2 linked regions of the Homo sapiens genome follow. The protein of the gene in region 1 purifies or fractionates together with the protein of each later gene. This does not show direct contact. Each region holds a gene or a part of one and is shown in the gene's direction. Other genes may lie near its edges.

Region 1 (3,822 bases):
CAACATCTTGACTTCTGCATCTTTCCTTGGGACTGGAACTGCTGTCTGTCTGCCAGGCCACCTCCCCCTTCATGAAAAAGCAGCTCGAGTCAGAACTCACTTGCTCTCGAACACCCGTCCGGGGAAGACAGAATAGCAAAGGCGATAGCTGTCGAGTGTCCACTATGCCACTAGTCCCGGGGGAGGGGCGAGGTGATCCCTCCTTCATCATAAGAGCCCCTAGTTTCCAGCAGAGGAAGTGTGGCCCAGGGAGGTTGAGTGTCCAGGGTCACATAGCAAGAAGGGGCATGTCCTTGAAGGTGCACTCAGAGAGGTTATGTGAGTGTCCAGAGTCACACAGCAGGAAGAGGCATGGCCTTGAAGGTGCGCTTTGGGCCCGGGCTCTAACCTCAGGGCTGCCCTGCCTCCCACTGGGGCTGCAGGAGCTGGCCCGGCCACAGCCCCATATGCATGAGGACGGCTGCGTCCTGTCCCTGCCTTGGCCTGTACGAACCTCATTTCCTTCACTCTGGAGCTGCCTACGGGATTTCTTTCTGGGCTGATGGCTCCACCCTCAAGGCTGTGAACCCCAGAAGTGCCCCTGAAATTGTCTGGATCATCCCTCCCATTTTACAGATGGGCATTCGGAAGCCCATGGAGGAGGGCTGCTGGGGAGGGGAGGGTGGGCGGCCGGTTCCCGGGCTCAGAGGGCTGCCTCCTCACAGTACGAGCCCATCGTCACCAAGGGCAATGAGGCCCTTGTCCACCACATGGAAGTCTTCCAGTGCGCCCCCGAGATGGACAGCGTCCCCCACTTCAGCGGGCCCTGCGACTCCAAGATGAAACCCGACCGCCTCAACTACTGCCGCCACGTGCTGGCCGCCTGGGCCCTGGGTGCCAAGGTGCGTGCCCTGCGACCCCAGCATGGTGTCTCCTGCCTGGGCCCCTGGCATCCCCACACCTCTGTTTCCCCAGCTTCACCGTCTCAGAGGCTTCAAGAAGGGGCTCCCAAGGGGGCTCACGAGGCCACCAGAAGGGCCAGGCCTGAGGTGGCCCCCTCGCCTCTGTGATGTCTGAAATGCTTCAAGCCTTTTTTTTATTTTCCACAGAAACGCAAGTGCCGCAGGACCTTATGCCCTCAGTGGGTCCTGATTCTGTTTCCCAACTGGAGTCAGGGTTTTGTGTACAGGTGGTCCCAGGGCTGGCTGGCGGTGGGGCCAGTGTTGAGGCCTCCACAGGCTGAGACGATGGGGGTCTCCCCAGCTCTTACACCCGTCTAGAGAAGGGGTTTTGGGGGAAGGCTCAGCCCTAGGCACCAGCTCCTCTCCCCAACTCCCTGACCCGAGTCTCACAGGATGTTCCTGGGGCGTGTAATGAGCTGCCTGTCAGGAGGAAGCATCGCTCTAATCCTGCTGCGCCCCCTCCACCACCCCTGAGGCTCAGGCCCCAACAGTTGACTGGGTTTGCCCCTGCCCAGACCTGGGGCCCTCTCAGGACACACCCGTCTGTCTGACACCTTGCCCCACACAGGCATTTTACTACCCAGAGGAAGCCGGCCTTGCCTTCGGGGGTCCAGGGTCCTCCAGATATCTCCGCCTGGAAGTTCACTACCACAACCCACTGGTGATAGAAGGTAGGCGGCTCTGCTGCCATCCTCCTCAGAAGCCCTAGGACTCAGCTGTGTTGAGCCAGTGAGCAAATCCCGCCCTTCGTCTGCCCAGCATGGTGCCCCCGCTGTACAGCTCCTCTTGGCACGAGGCCCTTGCGTCTGCCTCATCCGCTGTCCATCTTCCATGGCTGTGGTGGGCTCCCAGGGACAGGACCTCGAGGGGCTCACTCCTCACAGCTTCGCCAGGGCCCAGCAGTGGCCCCACACCTCCCTCCTCGTCCCTATAATACGGGCTGCCATCGGCGCAGCACTGTGCATCCCAGGGGAAAGGACAAGGAGAATTTTCATAAGGGAAGCTGCCAGATGCCAAGTTCCAAATACAGGGAGAGGTGTGTGCATAAACAGGGAGGTGGTAGTAAAGCAGGGCATATTCCAGGACACAGGCGCTCCGGCCTGGCCAGAGTGCAGGGACGGGAAGGGGAGCTGGGGCAGCTGCTGTTGGATCACCCATACCTGAGGGTGGAGTGAGCAGGGTCAGCTTTTAGCATGGCAAGGCCAGGTGATGCTGTCTCAGAAACTGAAAAAAATACTTCCCTCTCTCTGTTGCACCAGCATCTTTCACCATATATAGACACACACGCACACAATGCACACACACACGCACACACACATGCACACATGTACACATATGCACGCAGAAGCACACACATGCACACACTTTTTCTCTCTCTCTGAATGGTGCTTCTTCTTTTCATTTGTGCAAGGTGCAGAAGTGGCCTAAGAGATAGGTGCTAGGCTGTGCCTCACCACCTTGGGGACGCTGGGTGGATGACCTCACCCGCTGCCTGTTCTCCCACCTCCCACAGCTATTGTGAAGCTGGGAAAGGCTCACGCACAGAACTTGCTGTGGGCACGGGGCTGTGCTCAGCTAACAGTCGCCTGTGGTTTTTTTTTTTTTTCCTGGCTGCATAAGTAATACCTTCCGCCACTGTTGGAGTTATCTCCACATGCACAGAGAAGGGTATAAGTCAGCTTGGGCCTTAGCATGACACGGGATTTATTGCTCATTTAAACCCTGAAAGCAAATGGATTTTTGAAAACTCCTGAAGCATCAGGGAAGTCTGTCTCTTCATGATTATCTGGTTGTATTTATGGATCCTTTGCCAAATATAAGGACGCTCCTGTCACTTCACCCATCTTGAGATGGGCTGCTTTTCTATAAATATCAAAATCCCACAATTATTTCATGATTTAATCCCCATCTGAATTTTAACCAATTGCAACACCCTTTTTATTATTATCCTCTGATGTAATCAGCCTGGAGATACAGGAGCCGTTTGAGTTTGGATGGTGTAGGGGTGTCGAGGGAAGAAGGCAGAGGCAAGAGGAGTTGTTTTGGCCTCATCTTAAAGGAAACAAGTAGGGAGATGGTTGGGCCCCCTGGAAGTGCCCTGCACCCCAGTCCACAGCCCTGGGTTTGAACCTCAGCTTGGCCACTTCCCAGCCCTGTGGTCTTGTGTGGAGTCTTCAGTTCAGGCTCCATCCTCAGTTTCTTAATCTGTGAAATAGGGCTGATGATTCTCACTGTGCAAAACTTCCATGAAAGGGGTAGGTTATGCTTAGAGCATTTTTGGCACCCAGGGAAGATGTTAGTATCTGTACCACCCTCTTGGTTTGATCAGAAAGGGCAATGCATGTACACTGGTGAGAAGATGGACAGCAGAAAAGCATGAAGAAGATGAAACCACCCCCCAGCTCCCGGCTCCAAGTTTTGAAGTGAGCACTGGTCACCCAGCTATGTGTCTGTCCTGACTGCTTTTCTGGCCCATTAATTTTTTTCTTGTGACTAGAATTTTATATCTTTTTTTTTCATTGTTGTTTGTTTTTTTACTTAAACTTCATCAGAAGCCTCTTCCCTGTGAATTAAAACCCCTTGTCAATTTCACACTCCTTGCCGCCTGACATCCCTTTCCTGTACATAACCCAGGGGGCAGAGCCTCCTGCTGCACAGCCCCTCCAGACCACCCCGCCATGTCCGCCATGTCCACCATGTCCACCATGCATCCGGGGGCATGGGGCCAGGCCTTTAGATCCTCCGCCAACCATGAGCCCAGCCGGTACTCAGAGCCTGGCTGCTGATTCACTAGGCATGGAGTTTCAGGAACGGTGGGGCTACCTGGATGACACCTGGTTGTGAGGATGTTCGAGTGGGTGCCAGCATCCCTGAACCTCTG
Region 2 (3,822 bases), on another chromosome or scaffold:
TACCTTGTTTTTGCTCCTCCTCCCTGTTTAGTTAATGGTGCTTCCATCCACCCAGACAGAGCTCAAGAGAGAAACCTTGGATTTACCTAGATTCTTTCCTTTCCCTCACCTTCCTACAAACCCCCAACCTAATTGGATACCAAGTCCTGTAGTTCTGTTTCCTCTATATCTTTTGAATCAATCTTTTTCTGTCCCTCGCCACTGTTCTAGGTTAGTCTCTTGCCTGAACTCTTTCAGTAACCTAAAATGGTGTCCCTGCTTCTAGGCTGTAGCTCTTCCAGTCCATTTGTCAGTACAGAGCAGCGTTTCTAAAGCACAAATGTGATCATTCCCTCTTGCTTAAAATTACACAATGGCTTTCTCTTAGTTATTGGCCAAAATCTAAACTCGTTGGCTAAACTGTTCATGATCTGACTATGCTTGCCCTTTCTACCAGTCTCCCTTATCACACTTACTTTCTAGAAAACTGAACTGTTTGCTGTTTTCTGAGTAAGTCATGAAATTTGTGCTTTTCTACCTTTGCACAGGTTATCCCCTTTTTTGGGAATGTTTCTTTATTTTGTAACTGTGATTCATTCTTAAACATGTCATCTCCAGATATCTCTGACTCTCCATCTTTTTACCCTAGAGTTTGGCCCATCATTTTGTGCTCAAATAAGACATTAATTGCATCCTTCATAGTATTTAGGACAAAGTATTATATTTGTGTGTCCACCATGCCAAATAGATGACAGCTCCTTTCTTTAGAGTAATATTTCTATAGGAGTAGAATACAGTGTTAAAGAGTACAAACTTTTTACTCAGTTCTGATTTTGGCTCTACTTTTTAAAGTAGACTATACTAGAGATATAATTGCCTCATACTAAAAATGAGATTGATAATACTATCTGAGGATGACTTGTATTAAGTGAGATAATGCATCTAAACTAGTGTTGTCTGGCACATGGAAATCTCTTAGTAGATGGAAGTCACATTAGTATCTTCAGCACAGATTCATTATTCAGCAAATATCTGTTGAATAAATGATCACATATCAGGTACTCAGGATATATGCACTGTTAACTGGTAGTATCTAACTCGGTAATTGGTTATCTACTTAGTATCTGGTAAGGATATATAAAAGAAATCTTATTTCTGTAGAAGCCTCCACACCACTAATAACAGTAATAGGAAATGGCTAAGAAACATACAGGATATTATGTGGTTACACACTTTTATAAAAGGGGAGAATTCACTGTAAATTCTCAAATGATCAGTCTTACATGATCAAAAGTTCTAAATTCAACATTTGGATTTTATTCTGTAGGTTGAGTAATGGCAATTCATGGAGGTTATAAAGCAGAGGACAAGCATGATCGAATTGGTCCTTTAAGAAGGATAAACAGGTGATGGTTTAGACAGTGATAGGGTTGGAGGGAAGGAGTAGGGTGATGACACCTGAAGGAGGTGGATAAGTGGGAATGGAGTTGGGCCTATGAATGAAATTCATTTGAAGAAAGACATATGGTTTTGAGTATAGAGAATAAGAGACAGATAGGAGTCAAAGATTATTCTGGCCATGAGCCTGGATGACTGAGAGAATGATAATATCATTGGAGGAATTAGAGATGTGGAAGAGGGATCTTGTTTGGGGAAAAGTGGTCTAGGGAAAATGAGTTTACTTGGGGCTTATTATTTGAGTTGTTCAAGTGAAAAATTCTTGTAGGCTCTTGTAGATACAGAATTGGAGTAAAGATGAGAGACTGGTGCTGAATGTGAGTACTAGTACTGTTTACTAAGGGAATACTTTTAAATGTTTGTTTTTTTAATGTGTTGTTGTTTTCTTTAAAATCAAGACCAGTTGTTACAAAGAAGTAACATGTTTTAATGTCATTGTCGTTTAAAAAATATTTTTACTTCTTAAAGTAGACTAGCCAAAAGGTCCCGAACTTGGTATCTAAAATGAATATGGGGAATAAGGATTTTGAAAAATAGCTGTTGCTCTCATTCTTTTTTTTTTTTTTTCAATATGAGACAGGGTCTTGCTGTGTCACCCAGGTTGGATTGCAGTGGTGTGATCATGGCTTACTGCAGCCTCAACCTCCCAGGACTCAAGCAATCCTCACAGCTCAGCCTCCTGAGTAGCTGGGACTATAGATCTGCATCACCACATCTGGCAAATTTTTTGTATTTTTTGTTGAGACAGGATCTCACTTTGTTGTCCAGGCTGGTCTTGAACTCCTGGGCTCAAGCGATCCTGTCACCTTCGCCTCCCAAAGTGCTGAGATTACAGGTGTCAGCCATAGCAGCCGGCCTATTCTCTCATTCTTGAAGAATGAAAGCTCCATGTTATGTTTGAAGTTTTACGAGTTGACTGCTTTGTAAGAAAAAAAAAAAAATCCTAGATCTATGAGAATATTCCCGTGAATGCCAGGGATTTGCATATACCAGTTTGATGATTTCAGAAATTAAAGTCTACTCTATGAAAATGTTTTTCATTTGAAAATTTTCCCTAGAATGATTTAAATTAAAAATAATGAGGAAAAACTTGTGAATCTCTACAGATATATCCACGGAGACTAGTTTGAGGATACACTGGCATAGCTATCAGAGAACCTGGGCTTCAATATTGGCCCTTCCACTTACTAGCTTTTTTTCACTAAGGCAAGTTGCTTAGCCATTGTAAACCTCAATATCCTCATATGAAAAATAGGTTAAATGAGAATGAAGTAATGTGTGTAAAGTAAAACTCATACATGGCACATAGTAATAATAATAACTAACCCTTACGTAGCATTAACTGTGTTCCAGGCACTGAGCTAAACAATTATTATTTAATCCTTATGAGGTAGGTACTTATCCCATTTTATAAGTAAATGGAGACACTGAGAAGTAACTCGCCCAGGGTCATGTAGCTAGTAAGTGAAGCGGCAGTATTTGAACTCAGACAGTGGCTCTTAACTGTTCTTCTAGATTGCCTTTTAATATGTATAAATAAGGACTTGATATATGTTCTCTACTATTATTGTCTTTATTTTCAGAAAACTGTGACAAGTATAGATTCATAAAATCCTAGAAGTGGCAGGAATAATCTATGAAACCTAACAACTTTAGGAAAAGTTGTATTCATTCAACAATTATGAATCACATGGAACTATTTATCCTTAAGGTTTTAGATTAATTAAGGGGGAGGGGGCATCTGCTATGAAGCAAACTATAATATATAATACATAGAACAATAATACAATATTAAAACTATTTCTAATTTTTAAAATATTTGCAGTCTCAAAACTGGTAGGGAAAGTGATCTTTTGATTTGTATTACCAATTACAACTTGTTCTTTCTGTTGTTCATTTTTAGGATATAAAGAACTTTTCATACATTTGATCTCCCTTTTTTGCTCCTTTTGAATAAACTTCATATTTTCCCTTTATACTCATATATGTTTTAATGGAAATGATGCATTTGATAATTTCAGGGACACTAAAATAATCATGAAAAATTATTTTCATGATTCCTAAGAGTTGGGAAGTTCTTAAAGCTTGCTTCTCCTTGCTCATTGATTATTCAATATTAACTTTCCCTATCTGAAAAATATGTTATATAAATGGAAATTTATAGCCTCAGTGCAAAGATAATTATATAGTTTGTAAGTTGTTTAAAAGAGAAGGACACCTTAAACTGTTGGAACTCTCCAAAATGTATTTGTTAATAAATAAGTACTACTAACTTGTTTGTGAAAATTTTATTACTAATGATATAATCTAAATTCGAATGAAGATATATTCTAGGGGTGGGGAGAATATCAGGAAAAATAGCTAATGCATGCTGGGCTTAATACC

The links.
Region 2: the proteins of DBH (region 1) and LEMD3 purify together in Homo sapiens (affinity purification with mass spectrometry; one large-scale study listed by BioGRID and IntAct). This does not show direct contact.

The regions. Positions count from the first base shown.
Region 1 is NC_000009.12:133,642,709-133,646,530, forward strand, and holds part of DBH (dopamine beta-hydroxylase precursor), read left to right. Parts: intron 1-704; coding exon 705-881; intron 882-1,509; coding exon 1,510-1,612; intron 1,613-3,822. UniProt on the Homo sapiens protein: Catalyzes the hydroxylation of dopamine to noradrenaline (also known as norepinephrine), and is thus vital for regulation of these neurotransmitters.
Region 2 is NC_000012.12:65,175,852-65,179,673, forward strand, and holds part of LEMD3 (inner nuclear membrane protein Man1), read left to right. Parts: intron 1-3,822.